2 separate regions of the Homo sapiens genome follow, and region 2 is linked to region 1. Evidence: fine-mapped expression QTL. Tissue or cell type: caudate. Region 1 holds a variant in brackets; the other region holds the start of a gene. All regions are shown on one strand. Distances are from middle to middle.

Evidence for each region. PIP is the estimated chance that this variant, and not a neighbour inherited with it, causes the effect.
Region 2: OSBPL3 starts here. The variant in region 1 is fine-mapped to the expression of OSBPL3 in caudate (GTEx, PIP above 0.99). The same link has a PIP of 0.9 or more in nucleus accumbens and thyroid.

The regions. Positions count from the first base shown.
Region 1 is chr7:24,927,889-24,938,408 of GRCh38, reverse strand. The region is part of intron 1 of OSBPL3 (oxysterol binding protein like 3); the gene reads left to right. Among named protein-coding and RNA genes, the nearest start is that of OSBPL3, 47 kb to the left of the region's middle. The variant C/T (reference allele first, on the strand shown) is at 5,370.
Region 2 is chr7:24,974,433-24,984,952 of GRCh38, reverse strand. OSBPL3 (oxysterol binding protein like 3) reads left to right here and starts at 4,775. Exons shown (of 23, transcript NM_015550.4): 1 at 4,775-5,067. RefSeq lists an enhancer at 3,306-3,475 and silencers at 4,616-5,125, 5,176-5,385.

The sequences.
Region 1 (10,520 bases):
AAATATCATAAACCGGGTAATTTATAAACAATAGAAATGGGTTGCTTACAGTCTGGAGACTGTGAAGTCCACGATCAAGGTGCTGGCAGATTCAGTGTCTGGTGAGGGCTGCCTGCATCATAGATGATGCCTTCTTTGTGTCCTCACGTGGTGGAAGGCAAGACAGCTCTCTGGGCTCTCTTTCATAAGGGTATTAATCCCATGCAAAGGGGGAGCCCTCATGACTTGATCACCGCCCAAAGGCTCCAACTCCTAATACCATCAGGTTGGTGATTAGGTTTCAACATACCAGTTTTGGCGGGACAGAAACTTTCAGCCCATAGCAAATAAGCCCTTGTATATTTAGGCCACCATTTGGAGATAAGGAGGAAGTATCTTATCGGTTGCAGTTAAATGTAGTTCCTAACAGATATTTCTACTTTTGTTACCCAAGCAGAACACTCCATAGTTTTCTTCTCTGTCCTTCACTGTCCACATCCTAATTCATGGATTATACTTTGGAAATACCTTTCGATTCTGGAAGCATAATATAAAACCAGAACAAGAATATCGTTTCTACACTCACAAATTTGTTCAAATTAAATAGTTTGACTACACCAAGTATGGGCAAAGACATGTAAGATGGGAGCTCATGTTTTATTAATGGCAATATCATTTGGAACAACCAGCTTGGAGAATGATTTGGTAATAAGTAATTAGTTAGGTTTAAGGTGTTTCATGTTTTATGCCTGATAGCACCATAAACCTCCAGTTCTATTTCCAGATATGTAAAAGTGTGGCACATGTATTGGGACGTCTCATGTATGCTCTGTTCACTGCTGTATTGTTTGTTAGAGAAAAACATTGGAAGCAACCTAAATGTCCATGAGTAAGATGGATAAATAACTATAATGGACTCAGTAAATTAAATTCTATAAAGCAGAAAGAACTAAAACTATATGTATCCTTATGGGTAAACCTCAAGAATAATGTTGAACATAAAAGTCAAATTGGGGATTATATACAGAATGAGCCCATTCATAATAGTTAAACAATTGAAATAAAAATTTACTGATATGGTTTGGCTGTGTTCCCACCCAAAGCTGCTACAAAACTTGAATTGTAGTTCCCATAATCCCCACGTGTTGTGGGAGGGACCTGGTGGGAGAAAATTGAATTATGGGAGAGGTTCCCTCCATCCTGTTCTCATGATAATAAGTTAGTTCTCACTACATCTGATGGTTTTATAATATAAGGGCCTTTTCCCCCTTTTGCTCGGCATTTCTCCTGCCGCCATGTGAAGAAGGACATGTTTGCTTCCCCTTCTGCCATGATTGTAAGTTTCCTGAGGCTTCCCCAGCCATGCTGAACTGTGAGTCAATTAAACCTCTTTCCTTTATAAATTACCCAGTCTTGGGTATGTCTTTATTAGCAGCACAAGAATGGACTAATACAGTATCCTTTTCTATGACAACTGCTGTTGCTGCCTCTAGTCAGGACCTCATTGTTTTTCACCCGGTATATAGTTTTAAGAGCTCAATAATTTATCTTCCTATTCCATTCTCTCATTCCAACTCACTTTTGATACTGATACCAGTCTAGTCCTCTGTTTAAAAGCCTTTGAGTTTCCTACTGCATATAGGATAATGCAGGCAAACTTTTATCATGTTATTCACGATTGTTTCCAGAATCATATCCCTTCACATCTTCCCTAACTTCTACATACCTGTTCTCCAGCAGGCCCTCAAAGTATTTGTGCCTGCAGGCAGTCTCTGTGACTAGAGTGACTCTTTCCCCTATTTTCATTTTCTCTTTGCCACCTGGCAGAAGCCCAAATAGGAGGTTTCAAGGCCCACAGCTAGGGTCCTTCCTTTCTCAGAGTCATTCTGCTTTCCCACTCCTAGACAGAATTGGCTGTTTACTTCTCCATATACTCCCAGGACTTTATTCTCATTGGTGGTGTTAAGAACTTGGCCCATTGTATTGCATTGCAGTTTTGACCTTGTTAAGAGCAAGATCTTTGTCTTGTGCATGTTGAGGTCTTGGAGAACCTTTGCATAATTTTAGTACATAGTCTGTGGTCATTAAAGGTTATATTGAAAGAACGTATTCATGTTTGTGGATTGTGAGAGGAAAAGTTAGCCCTAAGTAACAGCCTGTATTCACTGTCTCAGCTTCCTTTGAAATATTCGCATATGTTCTTACTTACTCACTCAGCTTCATGGGGAAGAACTTTTCAAGTTTATCTTTTACTGGAACCAGTAACTTAAGGCCCCTTCATTATGAAGTTGATAGAGGTTGTGTTTTAGGGGAGTGATACAAAAGATGGTAGTTTTCAACCAGAAGAAATCTTAAGAATGAATTAAATGGTGATAAAAAAAAAAGATTCCTGGGGAGGGGGGAGGGATAGCTTTAGGAGATATACCTAATGCTAAATGACAAGTTAATGGGTGCAGCACACCAGCATGGCACATGTATACATATGTAACTAACCTGCACATTGTGCACATGTACCCTAAAACTTAAAGTATAATAATAAAAAAAAAAGATTCCTTCTTCGAGAATATACAGAACATACCTTTTTTTTGGTCTTTTTCTCTGCTTTATTAAAGCAACTCATACTCATTGCAAAATAGATGCCAGAATACATAAAATAGAATTTGTAGAAGAAAATTAAATATTGGTGTTCCCCCACCCCACCCCCAGGCACATAGAGACACATGTGAGAATTGAATCATTCTATAAATATTGTTTTGTAACTTTTAAAAAAACCTAATGTGCCATCAATCAATAGAACTTTTCATCATTCTTTTTAGATATAAGCATACTTTATAATCTAAATTGTATAACTGAAGTATATGGCCTAACCACCACCCAGGTCAAGATATAGACCATTTCTAGTAGTGTAAAAAGTTCCCTTGTAGTTTTCTCTGTGGTGATGGACAATTCTGTATCTTGTTTGTGGTGGCGATTACATAAATATATATGAGATAACATTTTATGGAAATATATACAATACATATATACACATACACACAAAGTGAGTACATGTAAAAATTGGTGAGTTTCTGAGTAAGTTCTGTAGCTTACCATAATCTGAGTAAACTGTGTAGCCTAATTGTAGTGTGCCAATATTAATTTCCTGTTTTTGATTGTAGTTATACATAAGATGTTACCATTGGTGGGTGCTGAGTGAAGGGTACACTGGACCACTCTGCAGTATTTTTGCAACTTCTTGTGAATATATATTTCTTCAATTAAAAAGCCTCCCTCATGCCTGTTTTATCATTTTAATGGATGTCTTATAGGTTATTATGTAGTTGTACTACAAATTATTTATCAAATTTTCTATGCATTGAGATGTTTTCCTTTCTTTACTAGTACAAACAACCTTATGATGAGCAACCTTGTACATATTTTTTGAAAGGGGGCTTAAAGGAAAAGCCACTAAAAGTTCTTGTGAGTCATTTTAAATGGCTACATACAATTTTTAAGAAAATGCATTATGTAAAATGAAACAAACCCATGCAGTAGAAATAATTAAGTCCCCCAGAAAGAAGGCATTTCAGCAAAATTATAATTTCTGGCGTTTCCATCTGCCTGTTGCCAAAAGTCCAAGGATGTTGAATCCCAAGCCAAGGAACAGAAGACATAACTGAAAATTGGCCTAATTCAAACCTGTGTCATTATATCACTTCTGAAGGGTGAAATATTTCCAGAAAAGATCCATTCAAAAGTAAGCTGTATGACAAACTCTATTTTACAGCATTTATTTAAAGGATAAAGCCGTCTAAGTAGTTATGCTGAGTTTCCTTGATATGGTTCATCCTGATTTCTAATCCGATTTTGAGAAGATCAGCTTGCATGATAGACTTCTTGAAACCCTAATGTACTTTGTGCTACTCCCTAGTGGTTGGGGGCCAAAAGATAGATATGTTTTTGATAACACATGCAGTATATGAGGGTTGTTTTCCATTTAGGCACAGCAGGTACTCTATTCTCTACCAGTAAATGAAGGTGTTTTGTTTTGTGTTGTTGACACTGTTCATTTCACTTATGTTCTATTCCCGGCTATTATTGTGTCTTTGATCTGAGGAACTCGGTTATCTGTCATTAAAGCTTAAAACTCAGACACAAGAAAGGATTATAATGAAAGGGTTATTGCTTCTGAGACATCCAGCAAAGCAGGCTTACACTTGTCAATAAGATCAGTGTTGAACATGCCATATCTGTGTAATATTTGAATAAAAATTTGTTGAGATGATTGATACTGGTGTTTTTAAAATGAGGCCTGTATTGAAGTGGTGAGATTTAATTTTTCATGTAAAAGACTGCTCCAATATGACCTTATTTTCCATCAGTTACAAGCTTGAACTCTTGGCTCCAGCTGAGAAAATTAACTTCCTATCAGATTCCTATTTTAGAGCTATTACACACATGGTCTATCTGCATTCTTAAACTTTGCTTTTCTAATGTCATCTATAAAGGTATTTATAGACTAAACTGATTTAATGCCAACAAATCTTAGTATTTGTTGTTTTACTCTATTTATGCTAAGTGGCATAGCTCTTGTGTATATATGTTTCGCTGTATATTTGACTGAAATTCCAAACTTTGATAGCAAAAGCAGATAGTAACTTTGGGAATTACCCATTGGTTTGCTTTTCTCATAACTAATTATTTAAATATCAACTTATGATCAGAACTGAGAGCATAGGCAAATACTTGCCTCAACTGGAGTTTAAGATAAATAAATGATAGAAATGCAACATTTCTTTTTTACACAAGCTTAGAGTTTTGCTCAATTACTAGTTTTTCTTGGGAATGGAAGCATAATCGGAAATATTAATGATTTAAGTGTTTTGCATGGTAGGGTGAATCTTGTTTGGGGTTTAGACTAGCTTGAGACTGTTAATAAAGTTTTCTCGATGTTTTTCTGGATTTTTTTTGTTCTCCTGATGTTGGGCATCTTTTTAAATATTCATAAACTTAACATATTGTTATGTCCATGAAATTATTCAGTAACAAATCAGAGTCCATTGAGAGAGAAAATGTTCTAAAGGGTGTATGTTGGCAAGGTTGCTTTTTACCTTCATGGGTTGGTTCTTTTTTTGACTCTAGAGCAGTGTTACTAAATTGTCAAGCTGAAATGCCTCTTATTTGACTGCCTTTTTGGGAGTTTGCAGGTGGTACTCATGATCTTTTCTCCTTTGAACACGTGTAATTGAATGTCCCTGTCCTCTTTATTCCCCATTTTAACCTTGAGCAGCGAACCCCCCTCTCAGCTGGGTCCCAGTTCTGCAGGCGTCTGCGTGCGTGGCCTGTTATTACTCTCTGAATCACTGCTGGCCTTATTAAACTATTTTGGGCAGCAGCCCTTCCATTCTCCT[C/T]CTGTGAACCGTGAAGACTGGAGTTGGTGCAGCAGCATCAGGTCCGGTGTGGAATTTGAATATGGAGGAAAGACGGTTCACTGGTTTGTAACATGGCATTCTGCCTTACAGAACAGTGGGGGTCTGTCCCCGGGGACCAGTTGGAGTCTTGAAAGTTTTTGTTTCTTTTAAAAAGTGATCTTAGAAAGATCGTTCCTGAATGCCCAACATTTCAAATGCTTGAATATAAGGCAGTTTGGTCTTTGCCCCTGTCTTAGTCCATTTGGGCTGCTCTAACAAAATAGCATAAACTGGGTGGCTTATAAACATCAGAAATTTACTTCTCGTAGTTCTGGAGGCTGGAAAATGCAAGATCGAAGTACTATTGGATTTGGTGTCTTGGGAGGCTCGTTTTTTGGTTGGTAGACAGTGCCTTTTTGCTGTGTGCTCACAGGGTGGAAGGGACAAGGCAGCTCTGTGGGGAATCTTTAAAAGGGCACTAGTCCCATTCATGAGGGCTCTGCCTTCATGACCTAATCACCTCCCAAAGACCCCACATCCCAATGCCATCAAATTGGTGACTAGGTTTTAATGTATGAATTTCAGGGGGACATCAACATTCTCACCAGAGCACCCCCTTTTCCCTTTCATTTTCTCTAGGATGTTTATGATCCTGGTTTGTGTTGGTGGTGTTCTCTTGCTCTTGCATTCTAACCTATCTCAGACCCCTGGGCGCACAGCTTGAAACTTGACCGGGGAATGCTGCAAGTACACTGGATAAAAAGGTGATCTTCAGTCCGAAATGCCTGCATTCAAATTCCAGTGATGGTGGACAAATATGACCTTGTTAAGCCTCAGTTGCCGAAGCTTTAAAGTGGGACAAATGTGCCCATTCATTTCTTATTAATTAAATAAGACATGGTTTATGGGAACTGGTTTATGGGAAAACTGACCACTGGTTTGAACCAGTCTGTAGGGAAAGCCCTCTGGCCTTTGTTAAGGAGAGATTATCATTCATCTAGTCTACATGTTTTGTTTTACAGATCAGTCACTGAGACCCAAAGGGGTTGTGTTTACGCGATGACACAGCTGTATGTGGGAGAGTGAGGATGAGAGCCCAGGTTTTCTAACTCCTAATGTTTTTCCATTAAGCCTCAGCTTCCCCATATATTGCTGGCTCAGGACCACATTTGAGACAGTATCAGTCTTGTTGATGCAAGTGTTTGTTGTTCATCAGAAAATGCTTTTTCACATGCTGTTTCATACTTCTCTTTATTTCCTTACATCCCCTTCCTTTTTTTTTTCTTTTAGGAAAGACTATATTAGTTGCCTATTACTGCTATAGCAAATTAAGTTGCTTTAAGCTTAAGTTGTTTAAATTTATGACTTAAACTAACACAATTTTATTTTCTTTCAGTTCTGGAGGTCAGAAAACTAAAATCAGGTGTCAACGGGCATTGTTCTTTTGGAGGCTTTTGTGGAGAATTCACTTCCATGCTTTTTCTGTCTTCTAGAGGCTGCTTGCATTCCTTGGCTCATGGCTTCACATCACATCTCCTTTTCTTCCTCTGTTTCCATCATCACATTGCCTTCTACATCTCCTGACGCCCTCTTATAAGGACCCTTGTGGTTAGATCAGACCTCCCAGGACAATCCAGGATAATCTCCCCATCATATCTGAGAAGTCCCTTTTGCCATATAAGGTACATTCAGTGCTTCTGGGGGTTAGAACATGGACATATTTGTGGACCATTATTCTGCCTACCACAGACAGGCACATAACTTATAACCCAGAGTTCCCAAATTATCTCTTTTCACCTATAGTTCTGAATTTTTTTCCAAATTAAATAACACTTTTCAGTCTGCTCACAAACATTTTTGTTAGCCATTCATACTCCTCCCTCTGTGCCCCACAATGAATACCTCCTTTTAGAAAAGACCTATTCTAGAAATGGAAGGAACTGACACCACCCCCTCAAATGACTGTTCAGACTTGTTGGCTTACCTTGATGTTCAGGAAGCAATGGTTGGGAAATGGATGTCTGGGAGCATCTGTCTTCCCACAGCTCACTTTTTGCCTCTGAACACGTACTTCCTGTGAGAATGTTAAATAATTTTTGGAATTAAAAAAGTCATCTTCACATTCTACCATGTATGTATTTGGCATTTGGATTGGAGAGAGGTTTGCCTACTTGTTTTTGGATATAGGTCAAGTTTCAGTGACAAAATCTCATTGATGAATTCATTTAATCAGAAATCCTTCACCTCAACCTAGGTTCTTAAACCCTTAAAGACTCCACAGAAGGCTTTCAGAGAGCCAGACCCTTTGGGACTGTGCAAAACCATATAATCATTTCTGGAAAGACTGGACCATAACTTTCATTAAATTTTTTAAGAGGTTAACCTGGAAAGGTTAATGACCAACTGAATTGATGGCTTTATTCTTCATTTCCCCCTTAGGTAAGAGGCCCTTTGAAGTACACTGCATATGTATTTTTAATATGTGATCTTTTTTTAGCTGCAACTCAGTGTCCCCCATTCCTATTGAAATAGACCTCCCACTGAAACCTGTGTCTTTTTTGCTGTCAGCAATAAAAAGTTTACTTTTTTTTTCTTGGCATATTTTGAGATATCTTTAGAACAAGAGATGGGAAACCTTTGTTAAGTGTAATCTTAATCTTGGATAGGCAGTATAAAATTTGTTTGTTTAGACAGGAATTGACAACAAAAAGTGTTGAGTTTTTCCCATGTATTCCTACAAACACCAGATGTTTTATTTGCACATTTTTTTTATTTTAGTGCATATTTCCTTGGAACTGAAAAAACTAGTTTCCTTCAGTTTTGCCATGCATTTCTGCCTCACCTTTGATCATTAGTTAATTAGAAGAATAAAGCCATCAATTCAGTTGGTCATTAACCTTTCCAGGTTAACCTCTTAAAAAATCATTAGTTACCCTTTCTTCTAACTCCTAAAGTTTTCTCATAAAGAATGTATGATATTTTCCTTCCTTTATCATTAACGATGCCTTCACCTTTACTTTACCCTTACCTTGCTCTATGAGAACCCAGAGAGGTGAAGACTAACTTTGGGGATTTGGTTGGTTTTTTTTACATTGCTAGATATACGAGGCTGAACAATAGTAAAGAGATATTGTATAAGCATACAGCAGATATCAAATGAAATCCAAAGATTTGCCAATTGATTCACTCCACAATTTAAAGCTTAGTGAGCAAAACATACATGACCAAGGATGATTACTTATGCTTTTGGAATCAGAAACGTTTTTTAAAAACAGGTACAATTTGGAATTAAACTCAGATGACTATAAACGGAATGCATTAATGTTCACATCAAAGTTCATGATTTGGCAAATTAGCTTGGAAGCAGCAGGCAAGGAGGGAGCCTTCCATTGAATGGAACTCCTTTCTTGATGAATTCTTATTCCTTAAAAAAAAAGTGTGGTATTTGGGAGAGAATTATAGCATGAAATAGAATATATTAATATACAAATTCTCTTTGAAACCTGTGGGACAGTCTGTAAAAAAAAAAGTGCTAAACTATTATGAAAGTACTGCGATATTTTTGGTAAAACTTATTGATGTTCATTTTTACTTAGTACAAGAATTTAAGCCTCATTTGGCTCAATTAACTATTTTATCAATAGGGAAGAAATGAGGTGGGATAGATGGTCTTTACGGCGTTAGCAACTATTTAATGACAAAGTTGGTGATAAAATTTACGACAACGACCCTGATCCAGCGACCTTTCAGTATACCACATTGCCTGTGTTCCTTAGAAAGAGGAAAAAGTTACACACTGAACGAAACAGATTTCAGACCTTCTAAATTAAACTACAGTGAGGCACACCTGCACACCCATCAGCATGACTAAAATGTAAAAGACTGACAATAGCAAATGTTGGCTAGGATGTGGAGCAACTAGAGCTGTCAGACATGGCTGGTGGGAGTATAAAGAGGTGCAGCTACTTTGGAGAGCAGTTTGGCAATTTCTAAAGCTAAACACGCTTACCCTCTGGCCCGTCGTACTGCTTCTTTGTATTTACCCAAGAGAAAGGCCTGTAATACAAATGTTAATAGCAGCTTGATTGTAACAAGTAAAAACTGGAAACAACTCAAATGTTCATCAGCTGGTGAACAGATAAATTGTGGTGCATTTATACAACAAAATGCTACTCAGCAGCAAAAAAGAAGGGACCACTGATATTAGCAACAACATGGCTGAAACTCAGAAACATCATATTGAGGTGAAGGAGCCATAAAAGAAAAGAGCATATTCTGTATGATTCCATTAATACAAAGTCCTAGAACAGGTAAAACCAGATGGTAGTGATAGAAATCAGAGGCATCAGGGTTAGAGTTGACTGCAAAAGGGCATGAGGGAGCTCTTTGGGTGAGGGAATGTTCTTTGAGGTGTTGATTGAAGCGATGGTTACATAGGCATATACATTTGCTCCAAACTCATCAGTCTGTACACTTAAAAGGGGTGCTGTATTCTCTTACTGCTATACAGAAATACCCTGAGACTGGGTAATTTATAAAGACAAGAGGTGGCCGGGCACGGTGGCTGATGCCTGTAATCCTAGCACTTTGGGAGGCCAAGGTGGGCAGATCACGAGGTCAGGAGATCGAGACCATCCTGGCTAACACGGTGAAACCCCGTCTCTACTAAAAAGACAAAAAAGTAGCCGGGTGTGGTGGCGGGCGCCTATAGTCCCAGCTACTCGGGAGGCTGAGGCAGGAGAATGGCGTGAACCTGGGAGGCGGAGTTTGCAGTGAGCTGAGATCGTGCTGCTGCACTCCAGCCTGGGTGACAGAGCGAGACTCCATCTCAAAAAAAAAAAAAAACAAAAAGGAAGGTTTAATTGGCTCACCATTCTCAGGCTGTACAGGACACATGGTTCGGGAGGCCTCAGGAAACTTACAATCATGGCAGAAGGCGAAGGGGGAGCAGACACATCTTTCATGGCCTGAGCAGGAGGAAGGTAGAGAGGAGGAGGTGCTACACACTTTTGAACAACAAGATCTCACAATACTCACTATCATGAGAACAGCACCAAAGGGGAAATTTATCTCCATGATCCAATCACCTCCCACCAGGCCCTACCTCCAACACTGGAGATTAAAATTTGAGCAGGGACACAGACCCAAACC
Region 2 (10,520 bases), 47 kb before region 1:
GTTGGAAGGAACTCCCCAAACTTCCATGCTTTAGCAGGAGACAAGATAAGGGTAATCATTCCAGCACCTGGACCCATTTAGATTAAGTAAATTTACTCAGGCTCCAGAGGAAGGTCTTCAGGACTCAGACCTTAGTTACAGATTAAAAGAAGTTAATTACTTATGTGTTAGATGAATGCATACTTACATGTAGACATATAACTTAGGAAGTATATAAGCTCTGGAAAACTTTGTAATTTGGAGTTGGTCTGGCGATGATCTCCAGGCCTTCTCCCCGTACCCAGTTGCAAAAATAAAAACTCTTTTCCTCCCCAGTTCATCTGCATCTCATTATTGGGCCACGAGAAATAGCAGCCCAACACTTAGTTTGGTCTGGGAACACCACCACGGCACTCCAGCCTAGGCAACAGTGAGATCTTGTCTCAAAAAAAAAAAAACAAAAAAAGAAAAGAAAAGAAAGGAAACTAAAGGTGAGCAATCTTCCTCTAGAATGTCCCAGAAATTGTAAACAGCTGATGAAAAACAATTTAGAATTAGAATAATCTGTGACTTTTAGTTGCACTGATCGTATTGACTTAAACTAAGCAGGAAATATATCTGAACCAGGAAAACTAACAATGTTGCAACTTCCTCTACAAGGATAACTTTACTGTAATAAATACATTTTTGTTCAAAAGTTAAAAACGTTAACAAAGACATGCAGGAAATGGCTCTCTGCTCCTAATTCCCAAAATAATTTCTCTCTGCTCTGAACACATTTTTGGTACCTCTTAGGACATCTTCCATTTTTTAGCTTGTGTTGTAGTTATTTATGTCCACATCTGATCTGCCCAATATAGAAAACTACAAAAGCACTGAAGGGACACTCACTGATTCATTTTTATTCACTTTAAAGTGCTTGCTAAGAATGATCCCTTACACAAAGCAGGCAATCTATATTTAATAAAGGAATTGGTGAATTTTTGAACAATCCTTGTCAAGAATTATACTAACAGTTGTAAAAGAATGCTTACAAGGTGTTCATATGCAACTAAATACTTTGATTCATTTTTCAGATAAAAGTGAAGGAGGAAGAAGATGAGTAGGGCTGTACAGGGTGGAGAGGGTGGCAACTCTGCTTTAGACAAGTGTTTTTCCCACTTTCCATAGGCAGTAGATGTGGCAAAAAGATGGCTCTTTAAGAGGAGACTTAGCCTCTGACCATTCATAGGCTGTATGATTATGGTCAAGACACTAGCAACTTTCTGGGCCTTGCTCCGCCACCCCTTCATAAAAGAAGTTGATGAAGTGATAAACAATAGTTCCTCCTCACTTGTAATCATATCAGAAGACTGACACTATTAGGGATCTTAAAGTTCATCTAGCCCCAGAATGGCAATTCAGCATTATCTTACATGCTGATCTTGGCCTATCAGTGGCAGCTTCTCGCAGTGTTGAGAACGATTCTGAGGCTCTATTTGGACTTAGCGGATAAGGCAGCCTTGACTGCCATAATGATGTCTGCTACAAGGCGGGAGGAAAGTGGCAGCAAATAAGTCAAGATGTGTCATCCCTAATTTAGCCCAATGCCTTCTCTTCACAGGAAAAAAAATGAGACCAGAAGCTTTTGAGTCTTTTGAGTTTACCATGTGCCAGGCACTATGCAAATTGCTTTTACATTCACAATTGTATTTAATCCTTAGACAACTTTAAGAAGTTAGCATTATTATCATTCCTATTTTACAGATGAGGCTTAAGAAAACAAAATTTGCCTGAGGTTCACACCTTAGAAACCCATATCCATAAGCATTTCCCTATATCGCCTCCTGCAGGCACGTACTATGTGTTATGCCAGTGGTTCTCATCAGGGGGGATTTTGCCCTCCAGAGGACTTCTGGCAAAAGTCTGGAGATTTTTTGTTGTTACAACTGGGGAGGACAGGGTGTTCCTTGAATCTAGTAGGTGGAGGCCAGAGATGCTGCTAAATGCACAAGACAGCACCCCCCCAACCTTTACCTCCAGCAGGAAAGAATTATCTCCCTAAAATGTTAATAGAGCTGAGGTTGAGAACTCTGCACTAGACTATGCGGAAATTGTTTGCAAATGGATGATCAAACTCTTCCTGTAGTCCAGCAGCTACATAAATATCTCCATTTTACAGACAAGGAAAGGTGATTGCAGAATCAGGTGGTCATCACAAGACAGGAACTGAGGTAGTCTGATTCTAGAGGCCCTCAGTTTCCTTTACTATCAAAACATGCAAACTCAAGTAGCACCCGCTTACCTATTACCAATTTCAGAAGCTAAGACCACTGTGTCACATGTGAAAAATTCCCACTGTGGTGGGCTTGTCTCCAAAGAGAAAAATTATTTGTTCAACAGTTCAAAGAAGAGGGTCTCTAGGAACTCTTAATATGGAACCACTGGTCTTTATTAGACATTCAAATCGTTATTTTAAAATAAGACGCTGAGGAGAAAGCTGATTTTAGAACATTAACAAACTTTTTCAAGAATAATTAGCTCTGCGTGGGTTTCAACTTTTATTTTTATTTTTTCCTTTTGATTTTAGGAGCTGGAGAGCCTGGAAGTTTATTTAGGAGTAGAAGAGGAAATGAAACTATGAAAAGCCACAGTACGATTCCTCCTTTACTTGGAGACAAGGCACAATGTGAATAATTCTCTCATCCTGTCCAATTAACTGCCTCAAGTACACACACACACACACACACACACACACACACACACACACACACAGAGAGAGAGAGAGAGAGAGAGAATGTACACTCTATTATTATTTGATTAGGAAGACATTAATGAAAAAGCTCGGAACGGGATGCTAAACAACAAAGCCCTATGCAAATCACTTCCTTTCGGATTGAAGGCTTGTCTCCTACAGAAAAACCAATGCTAAAGAAACAGGCGGAGAGGCTGAAGGTGGAGAGCAAAAGAAAAAGAAAGAAAATAGCTTGAACGAGGAAAGGGACTGGCAGGAGGAGGACAGAGCAAGCCTCTCTCAGAGAGAAATTACAGAAAGACGGAAGGAGGTTTGGGAAAACCCAGTCTAAGCTGCTCCGACGGCGGGGCTGGGCGTGGGCAAGGTGCCTCCTTGGACGGTCCGCGCGCCTGCCAGACGCGTCCTTCCACTACCCGTCCAGCCACCTGGCGCTGGTCGGGCTTTGCGAGGTGGTTTAGGAACCGCGGAGTCATTCGATTTGAAATCTTCTCCAATAAGCTTCTCCGTGTGCCGACGTGGGCAGCATGACAGTGGATTTGCTCGGCAGCATCTCTGGCGCCTCCCGCCCTCGCCCGCCGCCTGCCAGATCCGAAACAGACAGTCCCAGACATTTCGCGAGGGGGATGGTTCCAGAAAGCGAAGATCTGAGCGTGGTGAATGAAATGTGAACAGAATAGCTCCGGAAAGAGTCTCAGAAACCTTGAATTGGGGTCAGTTTGGAGACTGAAAATGCGTCGAGCGCTGCAGGTGGTGGTTGGCAGGGGGATTTAACACTGTGGAGCCCTTACTCCGTCCCAGGCGCTGAGCCCAGCGAGCCACGCGCGGTGCCCAGCTCGGTGAGGTCGGTTAGTTGGGTCTTCAGGGAGGCTAAATACCCTGTATTTGCTATTCCCTTCGCCTGGAACGCTCTGTGCGAGACTGGGTGTGGCAGCTCCTTTCCCAGGCTCAGGAATCTGGGTAAAAGCCACCCTCGCCTAGAGGCCCTCAGGGTGAGCGCCCCATCACGCGCTAAACCACTTTCGAAAGTGGACTTGGCCCTCCTCTCAGTACTAACAGTCTGTCAGCCTTTTATTTTTTGCATAGATATGTATTTTCTCTTCTTTATTGTCTGTCTTTCCACAAAAAATGCAAGCCCCGTGAGTACTGGAGCCTGGTGCGCCTTTCTCACAGTTGCAAGCTCGCAACTGCTCCTGGCATATACTAGGTGCTCACTAAATGCTCATGCCCTTCCCACCCGCCACCTGCGGCACTCGACACATTTGCAGTCTGCAAACTGACCCCAAACCATCAGCTGCTTGCATTCGTCCTAGGATCAAAGAAGGCCATTGGGCTAGTGGGAAGTCAAGTCGGGTGGACTTTTCCGTCTTTCAGGGAGATTTAATAGTAACGACGGTGCTCTCCCCACCTCCTACCCCCTTGCACATAAACTGCACAGAACAAAATCACCCCGGCACGAATCTGCACGACTGCCTCTGGAGGTAGGGTCACGGTCTCCGAGCCCCGGGTCTCACACTGATGCTGTCCTTTGTCATCTCGTGCCTAGAGTGCTGCCTCCCTATGTATTTCCTCTGTTCTCGACTCCTCTGCCACAGTCTGACTTTCTCGGGAGGTCGAGTTCTCCTAGCCTGTGCGACCGCAAGGGTCCCCTGGAGCCTTCTCCGTAAACCTGCCCCTCCCGCGCTGCCCTCACTTTTTCCTCCTTCCCTGGCCCGGAAAAGCCACTAGAGGAACATTTACCGAACGCCTACCGCGCGCAGGCACCGAGCTGGGCCACCGGGAGCCCCACCCAGTGCCTCGCCGCAGGACTCGCCTCCCTCCGCCCTCCCAACCCATCCGGAATCCGGGGTCCCTAGTTCCCCCGCCGCGTCATGGAATCCGCTGGCTTCTTCCGAGGACATCGCCCCACCTCCTTCCCGAAAGGCGACTTCTGATTGGTGAGATTGTGCATCACTCTGCCGCCCTCCCGCCCCCTCGGGGCCCCGCCCCTGGGCCTCTCAGGCCCCTCCCCTGCGCTCCCGCCCTTGCGCGGCTCCTCGGGCTAATCGCCGGGCGGCGCGCGCCGAGAAGTTCTGGGCAAAGTACTCAGAACTGGCCGCGTGCTGGTGGCGCCCGCCAGCCGGCCCGGGAGAGGGGACTTGAGCGCTTCGCGGCCGGTGCGCAGCGCGGCTCCGGCCCCGCAGTCTGTCTGCAAGTGGCCATCCCCGCCCCCGACTCCTGCGGCCGGTGCGGGAGCTGTCAGCTGCACGTTGCGGGGGTACCGGAGAAGCCGGGGTTGCCTTCTCCCGGTTCTGTGCGCTAACCCCGGAGCCCGGCCCCGGGGAACTAGGGAGCGTCTCCGGCTGCACAGCGCTCAGGTGAGTGGCGGGGCGCCCGCCTAAATGGGGCCTGGGTGTCGGGGGGCCTGGCGGCGGCGCGGGCTCGGAAGGGCTGCTGTTTGCGGGGCGCCGCGGTTCTCTGCCGGACCGGGGTCTGTCCGAGTCGCCCGGGGAGGCTCCGGCCCTGGGGCAGACCCAAGCCTGGGAGCTTGGGTGCCGGCTGCAGCTCCCGGGGAAGGAGGACCCGGGTCTCACCCACCCCAGGACACCTTCCCTCGAGGGACGGCTCAGAGGATTGACCGCCAGGAGGAGCCGAGCGCAGGGGCCGCGGCGCAGGTGCGGGAGGACGCGGCGCGCGGAGCTGTCCTGGGCAGCGGGGAGGCGCTACGCCGGGGCTAGAGGCTCAGGAAGCCTGGTAAATTGGGGCGAGCGCGAAGCTTTACCACATCCGCGGGATGGGGCGCGCCGGAGAGACTGAGACAACGCTCGCGGGGCAGGCGCTCCGCTCGCCCGCCTTCCCAACCCCGGCTTGCTCAGCTCCCCGGTGCTGGGCTGGAGGCCCAGGGCACATTCCTTTCTTGTCTGAATTTACATATTCATCAGCTTTCTGGCCCCTTCTGGAATTTTTTTTTTTTGTTAGTTTCCAATTACTACTGTTCAGATCACCTTCAGGCTCACCCTAACTCTCGTCTCAGTGTCTCTCACATTGGTCCTTTCCTGGAGGCCCTGCAGCGTCTTAGTTCAGGGTCTTAGGGACTTATGCACTCTGTCTGAACGTTGTCTACAGTTGGGTTTTCCTACCTCTGTCTCTGTTTATTCCGTGGTCAGGTAAATTCTTTAAGTACTGTCATCATAAGCCAGAAACTCCCAGGCAGCCTCTTAGCGCTGCCCAGCTTCCCGGGGAGCGTTTGTGGCCTCTGGAGTCGCTGATGGGCACTGTCGCAGGTCGTCCAGATACTTCTTAAGCAGGGGCGCGCCGCCCTTCCTTCGGCAACGCAACTTGCTTGCTGCCTTCTGCACACTTGTGCTTGTCCTTCTCCGCCTCACAAGCCACCAGTCTCCTCAGTCGGGACTCTTGGAGCTGAGGGGACTGTGAAGTTGTCGGTTTCCATGTGTCTGCGTACTGCGCAGAGGTGCTTGAGACCCCCTAGGTGTTGCTCTGACCCTCAGAGTTTGAGTATTGGGATGAGGGCATTTAGAAATATTTTAAACTACAGCTGCAAAAGAGATACTTCCACAGATGGGTGAAAGCGAAGGCCTGGCTTCTCATCATCTGCACTGTACCCCGCAAGTATCATACAAGGTGAGGTCCTTGGCTAAAGGACTATACTTGGCTAAAGGAGATCAGTCAAGCAGGCCTAGGTTCTTATGCATCCAAGCTAAATGACCATCCCCTCCAGCCAAGCCACATCACCCGTTTGCTGTTGCTCATAGCACTTAAATTTCTCTCTGAAATTGTCTCTTTGGGTTATTGGGTTATCTGCCTTCCCTCATTAGGATGTAAGTACCAGGAATGCAGAGACCTTGTCTGTCTTGTTCATCACTTGATCCCCTGTGTCAAGAACACGCAGTAGGTTTGCAGTAAACATTTATAGAATGAATAAATGAAACCTTCTCTGTAAATATGAGGAATGAGGATTTCATAGCTGATTTTGATTTTCATCTTTATCCTTTTTTTACTGTTGGGAAAATTAACAAATAGCAATACTAGGAACTTTTGTACATTACCGCATTAAACTTACAGAAGTCTGTTAGCTAGGTATTTTTAACCAGATGGGAAATTGAGGGTCCAGCAGGTTAACCTGTGTTGCCAAGGTTATCCTGGCAGAACTAGGATTCCAGCCCATTTTGTCTCTATTGTGCTTGACCTCTTCGAATAAACTAAAATGTGGTTTCCACCATTAGTTAATAGGCATTTAGCTTTATTTGTATCAAAAGCTATGGCTTAGCCAAAAGATTTACTGTTTTATTATTGAGATATATTTTCAGTAATCGTTAATAGTTACATCATAAGCCAGATACTCCCAGGCTGCAGTAAGCTGTAATTTTCTTTTTTCTTTTCTTTTTTTGAGACGTAGTCTCACGCTGTCGCCCAGGCTGGAGTACAGTGGCGCGATCTCGGCTCACTGCAAACTCCGCCTCCCGGGTTCATGCCATTCTCCTGCCTCAGCCTCCCGGGTGGCTGGGACTACAGGCGCCCGTCACCACGACCGGCTAATTTTTTGTATTTTTAGTAGAGACGGGGTTTCACCGTGTTAGCCAGGGTGGTCTCGATCTCCTGACCTTGTGATCTGCCCACCTCGGCCTCCCAAAGTGCTGGGATTACAGGCGTGAGCCACCGCGCCCTGCCCGTAAGCTTAATTTTCACCGTCTTGCTGGGCATTGTTGTGAGGTTATCTCCATTTTTCAGGTGAAGAATTGGAAAACGAGGTTTAGGAACTTGCCTAAGGTCACCAGTAAATTGCTGAGCTAGATTTTTTAATAGTCTGACTTCAATTCTCGCCCCACTAATTAGATGTTAACTCATGATAGAATCCAGTGATACAAATATTAAAACCATCTGAGATTGGGCTGTAAACTTTCTGGTGCTGATATCAAGTGTCTAGATGTACTGTTTTCAGAATCCCTGAGACTCTTACTGCCATTGATTTTTGTGCTTGGGTTTATGGTTTGTGGGCCTGATAGACTGGGGACTTTTAATACAGAAGGAAAGGAAATCCTCCTTTCATCTAAATCTAAAGAGAAATCTGATTTGTTTTACCCATTGTGGTAAATGAACCCTGAACAGTAATGCTTTATACCTCTTAAAGAAAGCGCTGGAAAGCCAGCTAGTTCCTCTGTTCTCTAATGCAGAGTAGAGAGTTAGAAACTGCTACTAATTCCAAAAGCTCCTGCAGTAGGCTTTCAGTAAAACAACTACATTTCAACTCTCTACTCTTACGCTGACACTGAGGGTGAGAAGTTGGGGAAGAGTGGCATGGGTACCACCTAAGGGGCTCATGGCAAAACAGAGGATGGGGAAGGAATTAGTGATTCCTTCTTTCTTCCACTTCATTCCAGTTTGGGTGCTGGTGTAACATTTCCCCCTGCATAAGAGTCTGGATAATGCAGTTTTATTTATAATGTGCTTCTCGGCAGTACTGTATTTTCCTATTTGTTAATTCTATTTCAGTAGTACTCCAGGGAGGGTTGGAGAACCCTGCAACCTAGAATGCCTGAGGAAGAGATTGAGGTGTAGGATACCAGGGAAGATGGAAACTGTTAGGTGGAAAAAGTCTTCCATGCATAATTGAGAGTTGTTTATGGTTCTCTGCACATTCCTTTCCTGTCTAAATTTACACATTCATCAGCTTTCTGGCCCCTTCTGGAATTTTTTTTTTTTGACTTTCCAATTACTACTGTTCAGATCACCTTCAGGCTCACCCTAACTCTTGTCTCAGTGTCTCTCACATTGGTCCTTTCCTGGAGGCCCTGCAGCATCTTAGTTCAGGGTCTTAGGGACTTATGCACTCTGTCCTAACATTGTCTACAGGTGGGTTTTCCTACCTCTGTCTCTGTTTTTTCCATGGTCAGGTAAATTATTTAAGCACTGTCATTATGTTGTTAAAAATTCTTGGGTGGCTTACATAGTGAATAATAACATTAATAACAGTAGTAATAGGTGCTGAACTTGTATGTGCCGGGTGCTGTCAGAAGTTCCTGTACATGCATTATTGCATTTAATCCTCAGGGCAATATCAAAGCAGGCATTGTTATTATATCTCCAGTCTCCAGATGAGGCTAGGAAAAGTTAAGTTCACAACTGCTTTGCAACTAACATATGGTGGATCTCAGACTCAATCCCCAAGTTATTTTCTCTACTTATTTGCATATAGATTCCTTAGCCTAAAGTCACGATCCAGCAGACTGGGCTCAGCTTTGGCCTCATCCTATCATTCCCCACCCCTGTGAGCTGGTAGTCTGAGTTTTATTAATCAACAAAGCGTTTTGCCTTTGTCCATGCACTCCTGTTGCCTAGAAAGCTCTCTGTTCTCTCCGTGTGAAAACCTAAGTCTTTCAAAGCTGAACTCATAAACTGCTTTTGTCAGCATAATCTCTCTAAACCCAATTTCCCAGATCATTTGTTTTTTTAAAATATGAGAAACTTCCCAGTTCAGTTTCTGATCACAAACTCTGTTGCTGATGTCCTTCCTTCCTTCAGCACTTCTTACCTTTTATCTTCCCCTATTCCTCTCACCCTGTTGCCTCCTGTGCTAGTAATGTATTCAAACTTATTGCCTCCCTTACTAGATTTTAAATGCCTTGAAGGCAGGGTGAGTGTGTATTCCTTAGGTTTCTATTCCTCACATCACTAAACATGGTGTCCTATCTATAGTAACTGCTCAATTGAAAAAAGTATTAATTATATTTGCTTAAATTTTGTTAGAGTATTCTGTGAAAAGTTAATTGGAATGTGACATTTTGTTTTCTAGTTTTCTGATTTGTTTTGATCCACAGTATTTTATCATTTTATGATGAAACAACGAATATGCCATCATCATTTTATGATGAAGCAATAGAATATGCCATCATCATTTTATGTCGAAGTAACAGAATTCCTTGTTAAGTCCATGAAAAGCACCTGTTCTGGTTGCTCTCATCTTTGGACCAAGGAGATATTGCAAGGAGATCTCAAATTCACACATGTAGTAATCATTGTCTGTAGAATAAATATTTTGCCTATGTTATGTACTATTTTTTCATATCTACGGTAATGCTGTTACTAAAAATGTACTAAAATTGTTATGGAATTCAAATGGAATTTTTGTGAATATTTTATGGATCAATGAATATTTCACATTTTAAAGCAGATTTGAAAGACCCTTTCTGAATTGGCTCCTGCTTCCCTGTCTAGACTCATAGCTCACCACTCACCATTGAGACACAATTCACATATTATACAAGTCATCCGTTTAAAGGTACAAAATTTAATGGATTTTAGTATATTCAGAGTTGTGCAACCATCACCATAATTTTAAAACATTTATCACCCTCTAAAAAAGTTTGCACCCATTACCAGTCATTCCCCATACTGCCCGTCCATTCCCCTAATCCCCACCCACTAATTTACTTTATGCCTGTATGGATTTGCCTATTCTAGACATTTCATATAAGGGGAGTCATATAGTATGTGGCCTTTCGTGTCTGGCTTCTTTCACCTAGTATGTTGTTTTCAAGGTTAATTTCTGTTGTAGCATGTATCAGTACTTCATTCCTTTTTATTGCCTAGTAATACCCCATTGTATGTATATACCACGGTTTTATTTATCTATTTGCTAGCTGACGGGACTGGCATTTCTAAAAAAGTTTGATTCTAATGTGACCCTAATGTGTAGTCCAGAAGTTCCTTTGGGCCCTGTTCGCTGTTTTATCTTGGGGCTAGAACAGAACCTGGCACAAGATAGATGCGTAATAAACATTCAGATGACTGCAGCATTTTACTAAAAGTGTAA